3 linked regions of the Homo sapiens genome follow. The protein of the gene in region 3 interacts with the protein of the main gene of each other region in a pairwise test. Each region holds a gene or a part of one and is shown on either strand. Other genes may lie near its edges.

The links.
Region 1: the proteins of PRKD1 (region 3) and MAPK13 interact in binary tests that used the Homo sapiens proteins (3 or more experiments, as listed by UniProt).
Region 2: the proteins of PRKD1 (region 3) and MT2A interact in binary tests that used the Homo sapiens proteins (3 or more experiments, as listed by UniProt).

Annotation. Positions count from the first base shown.
Region 1 is NC_000006.12:36,126,500-36,133,672, reverse strand, and holds the start of MAPK13 (mitogen-activated protein kinase 13), read right to left. Parts: upstream 3,161-7,173; 5' UTR 3,091-3,160; coding exon 2,972-3,090; intron 2,403-2,971; coding exon 2,273-2,402; intron 1,053-2,272; coding exon 994-1,052; intron 1-993. UniProt on the Homo sapiens protein: Serine/threonine kinase which acts as an essential component of the MAP kinase signal transduction pathway.
Region 2 is NC_000016.10:56,604,403-56,609,997, reverse strand, and holds MT2A (metallothionein-2), read right to left. Parts: upstream 1,415-5,595; 5' UTR 1,343-1,414; coding exon 1,315-1,342; intron 1,007-1,314; coding exon 941-1,006; intron 736-940; coding exon 644-735; 3' UTR 501-643; downstream 1-500. UniProt on the Homo sapiens protein: Metallothioneins have a high content of cysteine residues that bind various heavy metals; these proteins are transcriptionally regulated by both heavy metals and glucocorticoids.
Region 3 is NC_000014.9:29,595,699-29,602,871, forward strand, and holds part of PRKD1 (serine/threonine-protein kinase D1), read right to left. Parts: intron 4,120-7,173; coding exon 3,958-4,119; intron 3,428-3,957; coding exon 3,329-3,427; intron 2,061-3,328; coding exon 1,793-2,060; intron 1,779-1,792; exon of another isoform or gene 1-1,778.

The sequences.
Region 1 (7,173 bases), on a different chromosome or scaffold from region 3:
ATATTTATTTGCAACTGTGATTAAACATTGGAATGTTCACAGTTTCTTTAAAAGTAAAGTGTCCAAAATGGAGTTCGTTATCTTTCCCCCAAGATCTGTTCTTCCTCTACCGTGTATTTCAAGCAGGAACCTGCCCATTCCTCCACCTCTGCCACCTCACTCAGCTACTGCACCCCAACAGATGGAACATTGTGTCGGCCCTGCCTCCCAAATGGGGCCTCAAGTCTGCTCTTGGCATCCCATCACCTCTGCTTTAGATCCCTACTTTAGATCACTAACACTGACCTCCAGGCTCTCCCCCTCTGCCTCCGAGCTGCTTCCTACTCCTTTCTTGCTGCTGCCAGTGTGCATCCCCCAAATCCCATCTGAACATATCACCTCCCGGCTCAAAGTCCCCAGGTCTTGAGGCTGCCTGTAGGGTCAGTCCAGATTCAGCTTGACCAAGCCAGCTGCTGGCCTCCACGTGCCACACTGACTTCTCCATCTTGTCCAAATAGTCCAGTCTCATTCAGACACTGCACAGGCAAAGCTATACATTTTGCAGCTAAATATTCTGGTTTTCTGCCATTCTGTCAAACACCCCCATCAGCCAGAGGCAGCCAAGGCTTCTTAATCCTTGCTTCATGCTAGAAAGAGCTCCAAGGTCCAGACTCACATCTGTGTCCCCAGGAAAGGTGAGTTGGTGCTAACCCTGTGAGGACTGGCAGATGTGTCTTCATGGTGTTAAAGCTGGGTAAAAAGCAAAGCAGCTGTGCAGACTGCCCCCTGCCAGGCAAGCACCCCACAAAGTCCTTCCTGCCTCTTCCTGCCTGCCTTTGGCTAAAAGCATCTTTCCAGAGAGAATCACACTTGACAGGCAAAGGCACAGGACTGCCAGGGAAGGAGGCTCTCCCCGCCACACCCGGAATAGAAACCCTAGACCCTCCCCCACCTTGCTCCCCAGCGGCATGTAAGGCCTGCAAATGCCCCAGAACCCAGTGCAGCCCAACTCACAAGTCATAGAAGTTGCGCAGGGAGGAGGCTGGGGTGAAGACATCCAGGAGCCCAATGACCTGGGGAAGAAGTCACCTGTGAGGGCTAGACAGACGCTACCTTCTCCTCCCACCTCCTCCTGGGCCCTGGCCATGCACAGGGCCATCCACCCTTTCCTAATACACCACCTCCAGCAGGAGGCATGTCTCCAACCTTCTTGGAAGCAGTAAAAAGGGCAGAGGCCTAGAGGAATCCCCTGGATTTGGAGGGAGTTTGCAATAAATCATGACAGAGAGTCAGGCTGGGGAGAAGGGAAGGTGGGGAGAATGATGTGTGCTCATTGCTGTCAAGTCTGGTGTCAGGGCAAGCAACACAAACCCACTCTCAACTCACCTAGGCAGCAGGAAAGCATAAGGGGAGGGTGGAAGGGAAAAAGGAGGGAACAGAGAAGGAGCTTTTCAGCCAGCAAACTCCCTGCCCCTGACCTTGGGTCTCCAGCCACATCCATCCTTGCCTGCCACAGGGCTGGTTCAGAGCCAAGGGCAAGATCACCCTGGCTGGAGGCCATAGGGGAGGGGTTTGCTGGAGAAGGATGGGCTTAAAATGTACATAACATTTTGAAATCATTCTTTGAAATGTCTGCCCTCCAATCTAGGTATCCTGCAGCAAAGCCTGGCTGCCAGGCCCTGAGCTGGGCCCCTGGTTTTCCCAGCTGCTTCTATCAGACAAGACAATCTGATGGTCATGTGCTCAGACCGGGAGCCTCGCTGCCGAGATTGAAACCCCAGCTCTGCTACTGACTAACCATCTAATCTGTGAGCCTTGCTGTGCTTTAGTTTCCTGTCTGTGACATGGGGGCAGTAGTACTCATATATCATGAGGACTAGACAAGTTAGTGTATGCAGAGCTCTTAGAACATAGGAAGTGCTCAATATGTGTATATTGCTATTGTTATCAGGGTCACGTGGACACAACGCTAACTAGGATTCTAGTCCCAGCTGGCCACAAGCTCTCAGACATGGAACCAATTACAAAGTTCCCCTGTGCCAATTTCCTCTGTAGGATAACACAGTCTGTACCTCACAAAGTGCATTCTGCCAAAAATACCCTTTGACCTCTTCCTGGAAAGTGGGCAGGGAAGGTCTCGGCACCCCCTCCTTTCAATAGTGAGGCGAGAGGCACCGTCAGGGGAGCAGGGAGGAGACTGTCCCGAGCTCTCCATACCGGGAGGCCCCGCCTGCGCCTGCCCCTGACTCCCCAGGGCAGCCCCCACCCCCTCCCCGGGGCAGCCACCACCTACGTTCTCATGCTGCATGTGCTTCAGCAGCAGCAGCTCCCGGTAGGCGCGCTTGGCGAAGATCTCGGACTGAAAGGGTCGGCTCAGCTTCTTGATGGCCACCTTCTCCCCTGACCGCTTGTCGATGGCCGAGCTGTCGGGCACAGGCCGGTCAGCAGGCGAGGCTCTCCTCCTGGGCCGTATCTCCCAGACCGCCCTGACCCCTCCCACTGGGCAGCTGGGCTGAGAGGGGACTAGGCCCACCACCTAGAATATGGGGGAGCCGCGGGACGCAGGGCAGGGAGTAGGAAGCCAGGCAGGAGCTGAGAGAGGGGCACAGCGCCAGGGGCAGCAACGTCTCATTGCGACGGGATCCACGGCAGGGCGGGAGTCTCACTCTGTCTGCAACTTGGCGAGCCACCTCCCCCTCTTGGGGCCTCGGTGTACTCGTCTGTAACAGTGAGGATCTGCCCGATGAACTCTGGGGTCTTGCAAGTGTACAGTCCTGGAGAACCAGGCCCAGTCCCAACTCAACCCCCAGAGACCTCACTCAGCCACTCGGTGAGAAAAGGGAGATGGCCGCTGGGTGGCCCCGGGGAGGGCGCTGGGCCTTGAGGTCCGCGGTCAAGGTGGCGCTGGCGAGGGGCCAGCCCAGGGCGGGCTGGGCGGAAAGGGGAGAGCCTGGCGCCCGCCCCCCGCCCCCCAGCGGCCCAGGGGTCTCACCACACGGAGCCATAGGCCCCGCTGCCGACGTGCGTCGGGGACACGTAGGTCTTGGGCAGCTCCCAGGCTGTCTTGTTGACGTCCTGCTTGTAGAAGCCCTTTTTCCGGATGAGGCTCATCCCGGGCACCCGATCTCGGCGGCCCCAGCGTGGCGGCTGCGTTCGCGGCCCAACGGGCTCCCAGCGCCCCGACCCCCGCTGCGCCCGCCCCGCGCCGCCCGCTCCTCCCCCGCGCGAGGGCGGGGGCCCCGGGCTGCTACGCTCCCACCTGCCGGCTCGCCCAGGTGCGCCGGGGCCGCCACGCCCGGGCCTGTCCAGCCCTGCGCTCCCGCGCTTCCGCCCGGCCCGACGGAGCCACTGCGGCAGGTGCGGCCCAGGCACGGGGTCGGGGCTGCCCAGCGGGACCCCGGTGCCTCCCAGCCGAGCGCGGGCCAGCGGCGGGGCTGGTGGGTCCAAGCAGGAGCGGGGAGGCAGTGCTTCCCAGTTCCCTCCAGCCCCGGTCTCCGTAGGAAGAGCTCCCTGTGACTGTGAACACACAGGAAAGCAGAACAAAACCCCACAACCTCTTCATTATGGAAAATGTCAAACATGCAGGAAAGAATTGAACAGAGTAAGCCAGCGCTTCTCACACTTCAGTGTGCTCAGGAATCCCCTGGGCATTTTATTTGATTAAAATACAGATCCTGACTCAGTAGGTTTGGGGTGGAGCCGAGATTCTGCATTTCTAGCCAGCTCCCAGGTCTGAGGCTTCTGAACCACATCTGATAGGAGGTTCTAATGAACCCCCGTGACCCCAATTCCCCAGCAACCACAACTCATAATCAATTTTATTTCATCCACATTCCTCTCCCACCATCGTTTTGAAGCAAAACCCAGGCGTCATATCATTTTATTCATAAATATTTTTGTATCTCTAAAACGTAAGGATTTTTAAAAGTACGTATCCACAATACTATATATATATATTTTTTGAGACTCTGTCGGAGTGCAGTTGCCATCTCGGCTCACTGCAACCTCCGCCTCCCGGGTTCAAGCAATTCTCTGCCTCCGCCTCCCGATTAGCTAGGATTGTAGGTGCCTGCCACCAAACCCGGCTAATTTTTGTATTTTTAATAGAGATGGGGTTTCACCATCTTGGCCAGGCTGGTCTTGAACTCCTGACCTCGTGAACCACCCGCCTCGGCCTCCGAAAGTGTTGGGATTACAGGCGTGAGCCACCGCGCCTGGCCCACAATACATTCTTAAACCTAAAATTAATAGCACTAATTCTATAATACCAAATATCCACGCAGGTTCAAATGTGCAGGATTTTTGTTTGTTTTTGACATGGAGTCTCACTCTATTGCCTAGGCTGGAGTGCAGTGGCGCCATCTCAGCTCACTGCAACCTCCGCCTCCCAGGTTCAAGCAATTCTCTTGCCTCAGCCTCCTGAGTAGCTGGGACTACAGGTGCACACCACCACTCCTAGCTAATTTTTGTATTTTTAGTAGAGACGGGGTTTCACCATGTTGGCCAGGCTGGTCTTCAACTCCTGACCTCAGGTGGTCCGCCCACCTCAGCCTCCCAAAGTGTTTGGATTACAGAAGTGAGCCACCGCACCTGGCCCAAATGTGCAGTTTTGAACACAGTTTCTGTGGACTTCCTAAGGCTCTATGAGGACAATGACTAATTGGGGCCCTTGCCACCTGTCTGGTGGCCTGTGCAGCCTGATGGAGATTCTTTGCTCAAACCACAAAGGCCTCTGAGGAGCAAGGTGGGCAGGTGGGGGGAGGAGATGGCTGCAAGGGCTCTGGATGCCCAGCCTGACTTGTCCAACCCCTCTCTTGCCCAGGCATGGGGCTGTGGAAGGGGCGGGGACCACCTGCTTCACTTTGTCAAAAAGAAGGTCTATTGAACAAGGAAAGAAATTTGCTAGGGGCTTACAGCAAGCCGGGGGCCCACACTAGGGAGTCTGCAGCCCCCAAACTCTGTGCCCCAAGCCCTCCCGGGCAGTCCTGCAGCCTCAGGCACAGCCTGGAAGATCATTCTGAGATGAGGGTGGGGTGCCATCATCACACAACAACACCTGCCATTATTTCAGTCAGGCAATCTGTCTTTTTCATTTCTGGCACATGGCAATATAACAGCAAATGTGTGGAGAATGAATGGAGGAGTCAGCCCATTAGATGTAAAAGAGTCATTTAATACACACTTGTGTTTGCCATGTGCCCGTCATTAAGTGTTTTATATAACTCACTTAATCCTGGTAAGAGGCCTGTGAGTCAGTAATATGATTATCCTCATTTTAGAGATGAGGAACCCGAGGTACAGAGAGGCTAAGTAATTTGCCCAAGGTAACACAGCTGGTAAGGGCAGAGCTGGGTGAAAGCAAGTACAGCCTGATTCTAGAGTCCCTGCTCTTGGCTGCGAGGCTATGCGGTGGCCTAGAGTTGACAGAATTGCTCCTCAAAGGAAATGGCCTTGCCCACATCATAAGGACATGTCTACTGATCCAACCATGTCTCCCTCAGTCCATCCTGCCCTGGGGTATCTGATATTTTCCCCAGCCTTTTCCCTCCCCCACCCCCTACTCTGGCCCTGAGACCCCATGAGAGCCTAAGGAACGGGGTCGCTTGCCTGTGAGTGCTGCAGGAGTTTTGGACCTTTGGGATCAGTGGCACCAGTGCAAGGTACCTTGATTCTGAAGTTGGGGTGGGGTCCTGGAAGCCAGATTTTAGGCTAGACGCAGGCAAAAGAGAGTAACTGACCTCAGAGATTCAGGTTTTCTTCTGGTTTGAGGATCCAGTAAGGAAAGGGGCTAGGATGTGGCACCAGGTCAGGATGGCGCCTCTCTGCTGCACGTCTTAAACACCTGAGTGGGGCAGAGGTGAGCCCAGGAAGGTGGGGATACCAAGGACATGCTCATCGCCCAAGTGGGTGCGATCTTCTGAGAGCACGAGTGGCCACTCTGGCTGTAGCTCCGGATGCTCTTGAGCAAGGGTCAGGAAGTGACTCAGGCCTCCGACTCTGCTGACACTGACCCCTACTCTGGGCCTGACTGGCTCTGCATTACTCAGCAGCCAGGCAGTCTGGGAGGGAGCCCTTGGAGGATCCAGTTGGGGAGTCATGAAAGGGAGGGGAGGAGGAGAGGGTCACTCAGGTCATCCTGGATACCCTGCTTCTCCAGCCTGAGGCTCTCTTTTGAGTTCCAAGGGCCCTTTGCTCTTCTCCTCTCCAAACACCAACCCAAGTTGTCTTGTTGGTTTCTGCCCTATGAGCATGGAGCATGGAGGCAGGGATTCAGGAAACTAGCTTTGGAATGAGGCCTGAATTTACATCCTTTCTCTGTCATTACCAGCTGTGTGACCTTGGGCAAAGTCTGGCCCTCTCTCTGAGCTTCAGTGTCCTCCTTGTGAAATGGGGATAATAATAAAGTATGACAAGCATATTGAAAGAGCCTTAGGATTGTATCATTTCAAGTACATATTCCTCACGACAACCCAATGAGGTAGGAACTTTCAATGCCTCCAACCAGAGATCACCAGAAACACACGTGTGGGTGAACAAGCTGAGCTGATGACTCGTTGCAACAAGGGAGAGCATGCACCATGGGGATCATGGGGCGTCCCAGGAAGGGGGCGTTAGAAAGGACTTAGTCTAATGTTTGGAGTTGTGTTAGGTGATTGGGGAGAGGTTAAGGAAGTGAGGCTTTGTTCTGGGTTGATGCTGTCAGGAAGTGGAGCTAACACTATGATTGGGAGTCTTAATACATCTTGCCTAGAAGGAAAGCAGACTAGAGCAAGGCTGAAGCTACAGCTGGTAAACCAGCAGCCTCCACTCAGCTTAGCTCTACAGGGGGATTTGGGTCATTTCTGTGATTTGACAATATTCATGTTTTGTCTGTGTTCAGATATGATTAAGGAGTAGTTTCATTTTTGTCTTAGTCTGCCCTGGTCGCGGATGGCCTTGTTCTATGCTGATGTCTGTGAAATCGTCTATGTTCAGCACAGCAAGACCGAATTGCACCAGGCTGGACAGCTCTGAGCAACCAAGTCCTGGCTGATAGGACCAGGCAGCTCCCAGATGTCAGGGCTGCTTTGGTCTAGTCTATTCCAATATAATTATTCCCCTGGTACAGATGGAGAGACTGAGGCCCGGAGAGGTTATGTAATTTGCCCAAGGTCGCACATAACTAAGAAAGTGGTGAACATGATCTTCATACCT
Region 2 (5,595 bases), on a different chromosome or scaffold from region 3:
TTTTGTGTCTTTTAAACTTTCATTTTCTTATTAACTCCTTATTTTACCAGAGTTTAGGTCTGTGACTAATGGAGAACAAAACAAAACAAAACAAAACTGGTCATTCCCCACAGGGAGTTTGGGAAACCGGATGTCAGATTCCAGCCACTGGGGAGTTGGATTTCACCCTCTGTAGTCACTTTCAAGTCTAAAATCCCACGAAGAACTGAAGTTGGGCAGGGAAATTGAAAGTAAAAGTGAGGAATGGAGAAGTTTCTGTGCCACATTTGACGTGAAACTGAAAGTGATCATGTATGTGTCCCTCCTGCTCCCATATGATCTGGCACAGCGCCATTCAGTTTTACAGAAGCTGAAGCTCAGTGCAGTAGCCTGGCTTGCCAGAATGCACTCTTTCTTAACGGCTCACATTTCCATCCACAGCCCAGGTCTCTGCCCTCCCAGTTCAATCCCTCACCCCAGTCCGTTATTTTTAAGGCATATAAAGGAAACCAGAGACAGAATCAAGTCAAAGCTGTTTTATTATCATTCACATTATTTCATAGAAAAAGGAATATAGCAAACGGTCACGGTCAGGGTTGTACATAAAAAATCCAGGTTTGTGGAAGTCGCGTTCTTTACATCTGGGAGCGGGGCTGTCCCAGCATCAGGCGCAGCAGCTGCACTTGTCCGACGCCCCTTTGCAGATGCAGCCCTGGGCACACTTGGCACAGCCCACAGGGCAGCAGGAGCAGCAGCCTGGGGGCAGACAGGAGGCGGCAGAGATGAGTACTAGCGACACCGGGAATAAGGATTCCTGCTCTCCCTGATAAGGATCACTGAGGAGGCAACAATTTCCGCGCAATGGGGCATCCCCAGACTGCTTTAATTCCCCTGAGGATGGTGGAGAGGGGACAGGCTGGAGGACAGGGAAGGGGTAGAGGAAAGAGAGGATCCCACTTACTTTTCTTGCAGGAGGTGCATTTGCACTCTTTGCATTTGCAGGAGCCGGCGCAGGTGCAGGAGTCACCTGCAAGGAGAAAAGACAGAGGTGAGAACCGTCCCTGGATACCTGAACAAGGGACGGCGTACTAAGAGCCCGGGGCCGAGTTCCTCAGTCCACAACCGATTCCTGGGAACTTGAGCAAGCCATTAACTCAGATCTCCTTAACGGTAAAAAGGGGGCTCCGAATAACCTAGAATGGAGAGAAAGATACCCCAAAACTCTTTGGGAAGGAGCAACTCCTGTCCTGAAATTGAGTGACCAGAGAAAGAAAGAGGGGTCAGAAATTGCTTCTCTAGCGCTACAGTCTACACTGGGCATCCCCAGCCTCTTACCGGCGGCGCAGGAGCAGTTGGGATCCATGGCGAGCTGAAGAGGCGGCTAGAGTCGGGACAGGTTGCACGCGGGTTCGCTGGGACTTGGAGGAGGCGTGGTGGAGTGCAGCGCGGCAAGCAGTGTTTATAGCTAGAAAGAGCCGGGACGAGTGCAAAAGCCCCGCCCCGGCCGGGCGCTGCCTGCACACGCCCCGCGCTGAGTCACTTGCGGCTCCAGGCGAAACACCCGGCCGCGCGCACTGGGCCGGGCGCACCCGGCTCTGCACACGGGCCGCGGGCGGTCAGTTCCCTGAAGGCGGCCCACTTGCGCCTCGGGGACGCCTCGGCGCGGAAGGGGCTGGGTGCAGCGGGAGGACACAGTGTACCGGGTGCTGGGTGCCCACGCCGTGCGCCTCCGCCGTGTGCACAGCTCCCCTCCCTCCTGTCCTGTACTCGAACCTGAGCCGTTAGCGCGCGGGTGAAAGCGGGACTTGGGAATGCTGCTTGCATTCCCAAACCGGTTGGAAGTGCAGACAGGTTACAACTCTGTAGCAGCCAAGGCTTAATAATTGTGCAGCATCACAGTAAACCCGTGGGGTGGTTACTGATGACGTATCCGTTGCATGTTGAGTACTTTTAGCGTGTAACAGGGACTGTAGGAAGTGTGTTGTGTGTGAGATGTCACTTAATTCTGTAGCAACCCATAAGATAAGGACTCTCCAGTATTCTCATTGTAGAGAGGAGAAACTGCAGGTCCAGAGAAGTTAATTTGTCCAGAGTCACACAGCCAGTGAGTGGCAGAGCAGGGTGAATGCGACCAGGCCCCAGCAGATGCTAACGGCCCTCTAACATAGAGACACCAAGGAGGAAGAGTAAGGAGAAGAAGCCACAAGCTTGGTCCTCAGGAAGCTCAGGGGCTGGGGGAACAGAGAGGAGGAGACCCCATCCAGCCTGGGAGGAGGTGGGCCATTGCCTTGGGCCTGAGGGTCAGAAGGTGTTTGCCAGGCAGGGAGTGGGAAGGATTTGTGTTCTAGCCTGGGAGGGAGGAACTAGCGGGAACACTGGAATCGCCCTGAGACATTTGGAAGGGAAAAACCCCACAAGAATATTCTTCCCCTGTGGAGGCTGAGGGGAAGAGCCCAGGTGGCGTCCACATTCCTGTCTGGAGAGGCACATCCTGCCTCCCTGCCTGCGCGTGTCTGGCGCTGTGTAAGGGCCTTAGATCGTCAACCTTGGAAGGCCCGAAGTGTGTCATGCTAGGAGTCAGGAAGTGGTTACTGGAAGCTTCCTGGCAGGCTTAGGGAATGCCGATTGCCACAGTGAAAGTTTAGTGAGGTGGTGGGCGGGGGAGGACAGGCTGTCCTTGCAGCCCTTACTGTAAGTTCCTGTGGAAATGTCTTTCTAGCTCAGCCGAATCGTCACTTCCTCTGGGGACCCTGTCCTGACCCCCATGACCGTGGCTGCCTGTGGAAGGTGCTGGTAAACATCCTGTTCTTTCCCCTCCTGGCGCTTTCCGTGCCTGTGGTATGTATAAACTGCGGGGACTCTTGGATTGGTGTCTCTGCCCCTCCTCACCAACCCCTGACCACTGGAAATGCCAAGGGCAGTCATTGTCTGCCTCTGGAATTGTGTCTTCAGCTTCCAGCACCGGGCCAAGTTTGCAGTAGACGCTTAATAAATATTTGTCAAATGAATTCATGGGGGTAATGGCCTGGACTGCTCTTCCCTTCCCAGCCCCCACCTTGTATGAAGGCCGACTACAAAATGAAAGTAAACACCTCTTGACCACCCTGGAACCTGCGTGCTCACTCTTGTAAAAACACCGCACAGGGCAGGGGGGCGAGCTCTCAGATGGACTAAATTTCAGTGGTCACTCGGCCACTCACTTACTCAGTGACCTTGGGGCAATTACATGCCTGGACTCTTCTGATCCCTGGTTTACTCATCTGTCAAATGACTGGGTTGTACTAGAATTTATATCCAAACATCCTCTGATTTTAGAGCCAAGATCTTTTGAAATCTCATGATGTCTGGCAGCTCTGTGGATCGAGAGCTCTCTGGGCAGTGGACCAATTTTGTTGTTGTTATTTATGTATGCACAGTATTATATACCAAATCCCTGGTTGCTAATAACTCAGATGGTCACCTATGCACTCAAGGCAAACAATCCAACTCTGTGAAGAAACAGAAGGGCTTATTTTGCCCTCAAAAGCATTGGTTCTAGCCCTAAAGCATTGGTTCTAGCCCTGGGTTTGTGCCAGCCATGTTGGCGGTAAAACTTGCTTGTGGGCCTGAGCTGTCTCTTTTGAATCACTTTGACTCTGAGGGGAGAGAAGGATAATGACTCAGGGAAGGTGGAGCAGGCCACAGGCCTAGTCTGTTCATCTCCATGCCCCCAGAAGCTTCACTGTGCTTGGGACAGAGGTGAAGAGGGAGGACCCATGTGCATGTTTGCATCCCTGACTTGGCAGAGGATGAGGGAGTGAAACCAAGCGATATTAGATAAGGAAAAACATCCCCCTGAATATCTGTTGTGAGTCATCAATGTGAAGTGATGACGTGACCCTGGGCTGCATTAAGAGAGGTATGCCATGTAGAATGAGAGAGGTTATGTTTTTCATTCTCCTTTTAGCTGCAGGGGTGGATATATATAGATCTGCTGCCCAGCCATCCACTTGTCCTTCCCCTGTGATGATATCCTTGGTTTTCCTTTGAAGAACTACCCCTCCTTATTACCAGTCCATATGGTTTTGATGGCGTATGTCCCATCTGTGAGCTCCTAGGCCATTCCACCTACCTAGTCACAGTAATTGGCTCTGATTGGGCCACACAGCCACCAACCAAAGAGAATCAGTGATACTTTTGCTGGGAATGCTGGGAGAATGGCAGATAGTCTTTCCATCTGGACTTGTACCTGAGAGAATGTGAAGCTGAGTGAGTTTCTAAAGCTTTTTGGCTCCGTGAGAAGAGCCCAAAAATAAAATAATCACAAAGGAAATGGAGCCTGACAATATCTTGGAACACCTGGATCCAGCCATGCCTGAAGCCATTATGAGCCAATCATTTCCTTTTTTGCTTAAATTATTCCAGATAGAGTCCTAACTGGCATAGTTGGGCAGAACCCCCCTCTGCCCTGAAGGCTGTGTTCATTGTTGGGCTCCCATTGTCCAGAAGACAGCTGATCACAGGGGTCCTAAGGCCCAAAACCCTATCATGTGAGCATCAGCTGAGAGAGGTAGGCAGGTTCAATCTGGAAGTGAACAGTTACCTTCAAATATTTGGCAATGGTTGCCCCAGTTATCTGTAGCTATGCAACCAATTACCCACAATTTAGGAGCTTAAAACAATGACCATCTTATTGTCTTTCCTGGATTCGTGGGTCTGGAGTTGGAGCAGTGCTCACTTGGGCGATTCTTTTGTTTCATTAGCTGAGGTCACTTGGTGCTGTTCGGCTGGTGGATGGGCTGGTCTGGAGAATCTAAGATGGCTTCAGTCACACATCTGGCACTTTGGCAGGGATGGCTGGAGGCTGGGCTCAGCTGGAACTGTTGACCAGAGCTCTACATGTGGCTTCTTCAGCATGGTGGCCTCAGGGCAATTAGAGTCAGGTCATACAGTTGAGAGTTTCAAGAGATGGAAGTGGTAGCTGCAAGTCTCTTAAGCCCTGGACCCTGAAACTAGCACAGGTCGCTTGCACCATATTCTATTGGTCAAGCAGTGACAGAACCTGCCCAGATTCAAGAGGAGGGGAACAAGACCCCCTGTCTTGAAGGGAGGAGTCAACAAATTTCAAGCATGTCTAATCTGCCATAGTAGTCATGGGGAATAATATTGAGCACCTGCTGTAATTCAAGATTTGTGCTAAGAACACTATGAGTTTATCTTAAAGCCTAACATAGCCCTACAAGGCAGGTGCTGTTATCTCCATTTTACAGATGATGCCCTGAAGAGTTATGGGACCTGTTCAGGATAACGCAGCTTGTAAGTGGCAGAGCTAGGATTTGAACTCATACCTACATGTTTATACCATGTTGAAAAGAGGAAATTAGGCTTGCTTTCTGTGGTCCTAAGGGCAGAATCAGGACAATCGCAGTGGGTGGGGTAAGGTTACAGGAATAAAGGTTGTTTTCTAGGTAGCAGGGTCTTTCCCCTCCTCTCCTCTCCTTCCCTCCCCTCCCATCGCCTTTCTTTTCTTTTCTTTTTTTAAAGACAGGGTCTCAGCTCTGTTGCCAGGCTGGAGTGCAGTGGTGTGACCATGGCTCACTGCAGCCTTGACCTCCTGGGCTTAAGAGATCCTCCCAC
Region 3 (7,173 bases):
GCATCATTTGTTCCACTACTCCTAGAAAAAGGATTTAAAGACATGAAGGTTGTTTCCCCACACCCAATTCCTGTGTAACAGGAAAGTGTTTGATTGGCTTCAGTGGTATTACGGATTTGCATTCTGATAACAGGATCAAGTTATTTTACTGGATTTCTAGATGAGCAATATCAAGCATAATGGTTAGCTGTATTTAGATGTAATGTTTCCTAACAAGGGTACTGGTCACAAGGTTATTTGATAATTCTCTCTGTCTCCTGGGAAAGAAACTTAATTACACTTTACTTTTCATCTTTGTTGAATTATGAAAAATATTTAATTATTCCTTTGGCACACATGATAGCTCTTTTGTAGGCCACAGGTTCCTTTAAGATATATCCATCCACCTATGATTTACAACTAATTAGAGGATGTTAAAGGTTGTTGCTAATGGTAACTTAAAGCTCTGATAATGGATAGCTCTTGTCATTTAATACCAATAGCAGTCTAATAACTTAATTTCTCCTAAGCGGTTTGTACATTCTTTTCTCATTTCTATACCAACATATGCAGTAACAGGCATCACATAAGAGATGTTTACAAATGTACTAGCCTTTTCACATGGTGAACATCTGAACAAACAGAATGAACCTAGAACTAGATATTGCCTGTAAACTAGAAAAGACGTAGGGCTAGTACTGAAAAAAAGTATGTTCAGACTACCTGGGTAAGAATTATGCCCCTGCTACTTACTAGCTTTGTATTTTGACCAGTGGTGTCACTTCTTTTTTTTTGAGATGGAGTCTTACTCTGTTGCCCAGGCTAGAGTGCAGTGGTGCAATCTCAGCTCATTGCAACCTGCACCTCCCTGGTTCAAGCGCTTCTCCTGCCTCAGCCTCCTGAGTAGCAGGGACTACAGGCACGTGCCACCACGCTCAGCTAATTTTTGTATTTTTTAGTAGAGATGGGGTATCACCCTATTGGCCAAGCTGATCTTGAACCTCTGACCTCGTGATCCACACTTGAAATATAGCCATCATAGTAACACCTATCTTATAGAATTTTTATGAGAATTAAATACACTCCAATGTATGTTAAAGGAGGAACTCCTTTCCGAAGTACTGAATGAGTCACTTTCTCTGCCCTGTCAGCCCCTGCAATTTCTTTTAAACAATCTTTTGTCCTTTAAGAGGAAGGAAATATTTATTAAGAATATAACTCTAAACAATGCAACACTGTCAAGGTAATCTATTCTAAAGAAATCATCAGAGATATATATAGGAATGATACATCAGGATGTTCTAATACTAAACATAGAGAAATAACCTAAAAATTCCAGGGGAATGGCCAAGTAAAATATTATACATATTTTAATGCCACACAAAGAAAACCAGTAGACAAAGAACTTGGTATACTAACATATGTTATATGATCATTAAAATATCAATGTCATAACATTCTTGTGTTGATAATAGTTTAAAAGTTTTTAACACAGAACTAGGCACATATAAGTAAGCCCTTACTAATAATTCATTATTACTATTATATTAAGGTATAAGTATTTATAAGTTCTAATGAAATGTACCAAAATACATTCTCTCTGGTTGTTCACTTACTTCTTAATATATATAACCCAATTTCTGTTATGTGTATGTGTCCCACCCAAATTAATTCGTGTCTTTGTGTCTCCACTCTGGTGGGCACTTTACAATGAGCATGTATTAAGTTAATAATTTACAATTAAATTAATTTAAATTAATAACATAAACAAATAAGGATTAGATTATTATCATTTTTGAATGGAAGATATTACCTTCATGAGATATTTCCTTCCAGGGATTTGGTGGATACATGAAAGCTGCATTCTGAATTTGGTCGTGTATGTCTTCATCTTCATTAAATGGGAATGTGCCGCTTAGGCTTACATAGATGATGACCCCAACAGACCACATGTCTAGAGAGCGATTGTAGCCCTTGTTCCTTAGGACCTCAGGAGCCAGGTAAGCGGGGGTACCCACCACTGACCTCCGGAAAGACTTCTCTCCAATGATCCGGGCAAAACCAAAATCACAAAGTTTCACCTGTTGATGAAAGGATTTGCAGAAATACTCCGTTCACAATTGTGTGTCTGTGTGTCTTAGTTCAGATTCACCAGATACAACCATAATATTTTAAATACTTTACCTTTACATTAAATGATATGGATTTCTTAAAGTAATAGCTATTTTCCATTTTAGGTATTTGAAGACAGTGGTTTATGTAGTGATACAAAAGTATGTTTTCATTCATAAAAATATCATCTAAACAGTCTCCCTTGGCAGGGTGCAGTGGCTCATGCCTGTAATTCTAACATTTTGGGAGGCTGAGGCAGGAGGATTGCTTGAGGACAGGAGTTCAAGACCAGTCTAGGCACATAGTGAGACCCCCATCTCTACAAAAAATTAAAAAATTAGCCCGGCGTAGTGGTGTGCAGCTATAGTCCCAGCTATTCGAGAGGCTGAGGTGAGAGGATTGATTGAGTCTGGGAGGCAGAGGTTGCAGTGAGCTGAGACTGCACCATTCCACTCCAGCCTGGGGCAACAGAGTGCTCTGTCTAAAATAAAATAAAATAAAATAAAATAAAATAAAATAAAATAAAATAAAATAAAAATAAATGAAAAAATAAAAACAGTCTCCCTCCTCCAAAAACCGAGAGACAAATATGAAGACAAGTGTACTCAGAAGTGGGTAATATTGTATACAAGGCAGGAAAGCGTTATGCAAATCTGGGAAGTGATGACCTTCACTCAAGCGCTTATTATGAGAAGAAGATGAAGGATAAGTACAGAGATGTGTCATGTCATCCACAATAATCCTCAAAATTAGCTCTGCACTGGCACATATATAGGCAGGACCGGAAGGTGTTAGGGAAGCAAGGCAGGACAGTCACATCAGTCAAGTCACTTCAGACCTATAATTCCCTGCGGAGATAGCTGGTTTCCCACTCTCTAAGTTGAGGAAAGGAAAAAAGTTTTGCCCTTGTCCTTGAGAACAACAGTGAGGTTTAATATCTTGCCCATTAATGAGCAGGTAACATCTCTGGGACTCTCAAGTGTTGTCACTCTCAGGCCACTTCCGGAAAAGCCAAAAGGCAGAATGAGAAGGCACTTTTGTGTATAATTAAGGCATGCTTCACCAAAAGGCCAGAGTAACAAGGCCATAGTCCCAAAGTAACAAATGAATAAAAATGGATAGAAAACACTTGAAACAAATAAAGGTTTTAAGGGAAAAATGGAAGGTGACAAGATGCTACATGGAAGCTAGCAATGCTTCCAACTGGCTTTTTGCTGAGAGAGGCTTTTATACTTGCCTGAGGAAAAGGATCAGCTGAGGCTAGCAACACATTTTCTGGTTTGAGGTCACAGTGAACGATATTTTTAAAATGAAGGTGCCGCAAAGCCACGAGTATCTGTAAAGAAGAATCACCAAAATTTCATTCCAGTTTATTAATTTCAAAATGTCTTCTACCAGTTAAAAGGCCAAGAAAAAAAACTGACAATGGACATTCAAATTTCTTTATGTTAAAGACACTGAAATGAGCTAGATTAACATAGGTTTCTAAAGAAATTTCAATGAAAAAATTACCATATGATGGTATTCATACAGCGGCCAAGACAGATGTAGATAAAAGACCTATATCTAACAGGGACACCCATTCTTAAATATTCTCAAAGAACCAAAACTAAACCAATGTACATTTTAAAATTTCATGAAAAGTTTGAATACATGGACCTGCAAACATGTTACTAATTTGGTACACTGTGGACTCTGATTAATATAGATATAAATCACATAATACAATAAAGCCACTACAACCTTTTCTAGTGTAGTTTAGACTGGAGGTAGGGACTAAACAACAAGGCTAGAAAGCTGTAGTTAAACAGTGATAACATTTGATATTAAATATTGTATTTTTTCCGTCTCTAATTGATTTCTTACCTGAGTAATTAAAAACTTCGTTATGTGCTCTGGCAACCTGCCCTTTTCACTTGACAAGATCATTTCCAGCATGTCTCCATGGAGTTTTTCCATAACAACAAACACTCTTTCAGGCGTCTCAAACATACACTCCAAATTTACAACACCAGGGTGATGAAGGTTCTATTAAAGATAAATAAAGCACTTGAAGAAAATGAGTTTTTTGATACTGTTTGGCAAGCTCGCTGATTATACAAAACTGTTCAAGCTTAGAGCTATAGAGAAACCCACACTTAAGATTTTTAACACCTCTACATTCCACATGTGCTGCCTTATATTTTTGAAATTCTAATGTCTCCAAAAAATACATCTTTACTTTCTATGCGTAGTGAAATTATTTCTATGTGAAAAAAATCCAAGTTCTAGCACAGTGAATTGCTAATTAGGTTTTAATTAGAATACCATATTGAGAAATCTATAATTTCTTAGGATCATCCCCAATATTAAACATATTGTCCTAACTAAGCATACTAGGCTATTTATATACAATTGGTAGAAATCTAATGTAGTAAAGATGAAATTCATACATGTAGTGCATCGGGCCATGCACTGATTAAGTACCTTAGTCAAAACCTTTTAGAAATGCTTTGCTACTGGTACTGGAGGCTGCAGTTTTTGACAGAAACTCTTATACTAAGTGAAGATCATAAAAATAGCAACAAAAAAAAAGTGAGCCTGTGCTTTGTCTACAATACCATCCTACCTGCTTGGTTTTCAAGCACGCAATAAATATAGCTAATCCTTGAGAAACACAAATTTGAACTGTGTGGGTCCACTTACATGTGGATATTTTTCGATAAGTACAGTTGGCCCTTGGTATCTGTGGGTTCTGCATCCACAACCAAGTGAGTATTGAAAATACCGTGTTCACCGGATCCAAAAACCTGAGGATGAGGAGGACCAACTTTTCCTAGAGGGAAGTTCTGCAGAGCCAAATGTGGGATGTAAGTATGCGTGGATTTTGATATGTGGTGCGGTGGTTCTGGAACAAATCCCATGCGGATACCAAGGGACTGCTGTCTTTCCACAATAAAGTAATGACTAGTAATGGTAAGCAGCATTTTGCTTGACACATTAATTGCCACATGTCAAGTAAAATTACGCTTAGCATTAGACGATCTCTTGTAATAATGCTTAAATCTGAACGTTCTTCTGGGTCATCAACAAATGCCTTTGATCATTTGACCTTTACCTTTTTTCTCTGCACAACAACAAATCCTAACATTAAAAAAAAATTATATATTCCACTTATATCCCAATGAGCAAGAGAAGAAAAATCATCATGAACAAAAACCACCTAAACAAAAAAAGCAGGAACTAACTTAAATGTGCTAACAGCTGAAGAGAGAAAAAAATTAAATGCTTCTTTATTTTAGAAAAAAAAATCTCAGTGATAAAATTGTACGTAAAATGAAATTTAAAACCTCAAATGGCTCACTGCTCAGAAACCTCACAGATGGATGCTGGGTGGTGAGCAGCAGAAGGGGTTGTGGGTGAGTCTACATTGTTGTAGTTGTCCTCTCACTACCCATTTGCAAGGAAAGCCTGGCATCAACTGGATATAGAACCAGGAGCTCTGATGATGATAACTCATTTCTTAGAGAGTCCTTTTTCTACTTTGCCTGTTTTGATCTCTGCCTCAGGCATCTGATGGGTCTCTTTGATTCTGATGCCTTGGGTCAAATCATACAGCATAATGGAGTCATGGAATTGCAAGTTTATTATGAATGTGATCTGAGCAGACGCCTACACATCTACCCAATAGCCTTTAACCTCTAAAGGGCTAGAGTCATTGTTCTTCAAACCGTTGCACTGTTAACTGGTCAAGTCTGGCAACTTCGAATAGACCTCACCTCCCACGTTGCTCTCTCCTGGTCAGAGCTGAAGCACATGGAGATAGTTGGGGTTCACAAAGCTCATATTATCAACCCTCTTACTTTACTTTTCCTGATTACTTGCAAATAAGAGCAGATAGCCAGATGGCTTTGAGTATTATGGGAGGGCCAGAGGCTAAGGAGGCGACTAATATGACGACATACACTTGTTTGATAGGCACTATGGAACATGTGATAGTATTGTTCATACTTGAACTTGTGTCCCAGGCTGTCTCATTTCCTTTTCCTTACATGCCTTTCCCTGTTAGAGAAGCCAGACTGACTGCACAGACCACTGGCCTCTGAAGTGTCAAAGGTCTCAGCTGTTCTCTTTTAATCAATAATCACAGCACGAGCTTTAAGGATTACATGAGTTCGGCTAGAGTTCTGATTCTCCTAGGACAAGTCCACTATGATATGTGCAAAGTACACGTTCCTCTTTGAGCATCTTCATTGATTCTTTTATTTTTCTATTTAATATAACTGTAAGCACTTAAGCAGTGTTCTGGGGAGTCTGGCTTCCTTAAATGGCTAAGCTTTGCAGTACGGGTGGGAAGCAGAAGCAATGAATCAGAAAGGAGCAGAGCAACAGAAGTAGACAGGAAGGGTAGGTGTCCTCTGTGTGTAGGCAGACGAAAAACTAGTAGGAACAAGAGATAAGCGTTAAGGGAGAGTGACCTCGGGGGCCCAGGGAGGGCAGGGGTCACGGGAGTAGTATTGGAGCTGCACAGCCTGCTGCTTCTGCTGATCTTAGATTCTGAAAGTTGGAGAAGAGGGGAGAGACGCAATGACTGGGGAGTCCTCCTACCTAAATTATCTGAATGATATGAATCCTTATGTGCCTCTACCTGTATTCCTCTTTTTTTTTTTTTTTTTGTTTTGACGGAGTTTCACTCTTATTGCCCAGGTTGGAGTGCAATGGCAAATCTCGGCTCACCACAACCTCTGCCTCCCAGGTCCAAGCGATTCTCCTGCCTCAGCCTCCCGGGTAGCTGGGATTACAGGCATGCACCACCATGCCTGGCTAATTTTGTATGTTTTGTAGAGATGGGGTTTCTCCATGTTGGTCAGGATGGTGTCTAACTCCTGACTTGAAGTGATCCGCCCACCTTGGCCTCCCAAAGTGCTGGGATTACAGGCATGAGCCACTGCACCTGGCCAGTACATGAGTTCTTAGAGGTACTAAAGTCCTTCACTCAATTTATTCCTTTTTCCTACTCCACAACATGACCTGAGGTGCCCCTGTACAGAGGGTAGAACTTTAATACATGTTTATTTCCAGAATTGGGGTATTCACAGAATG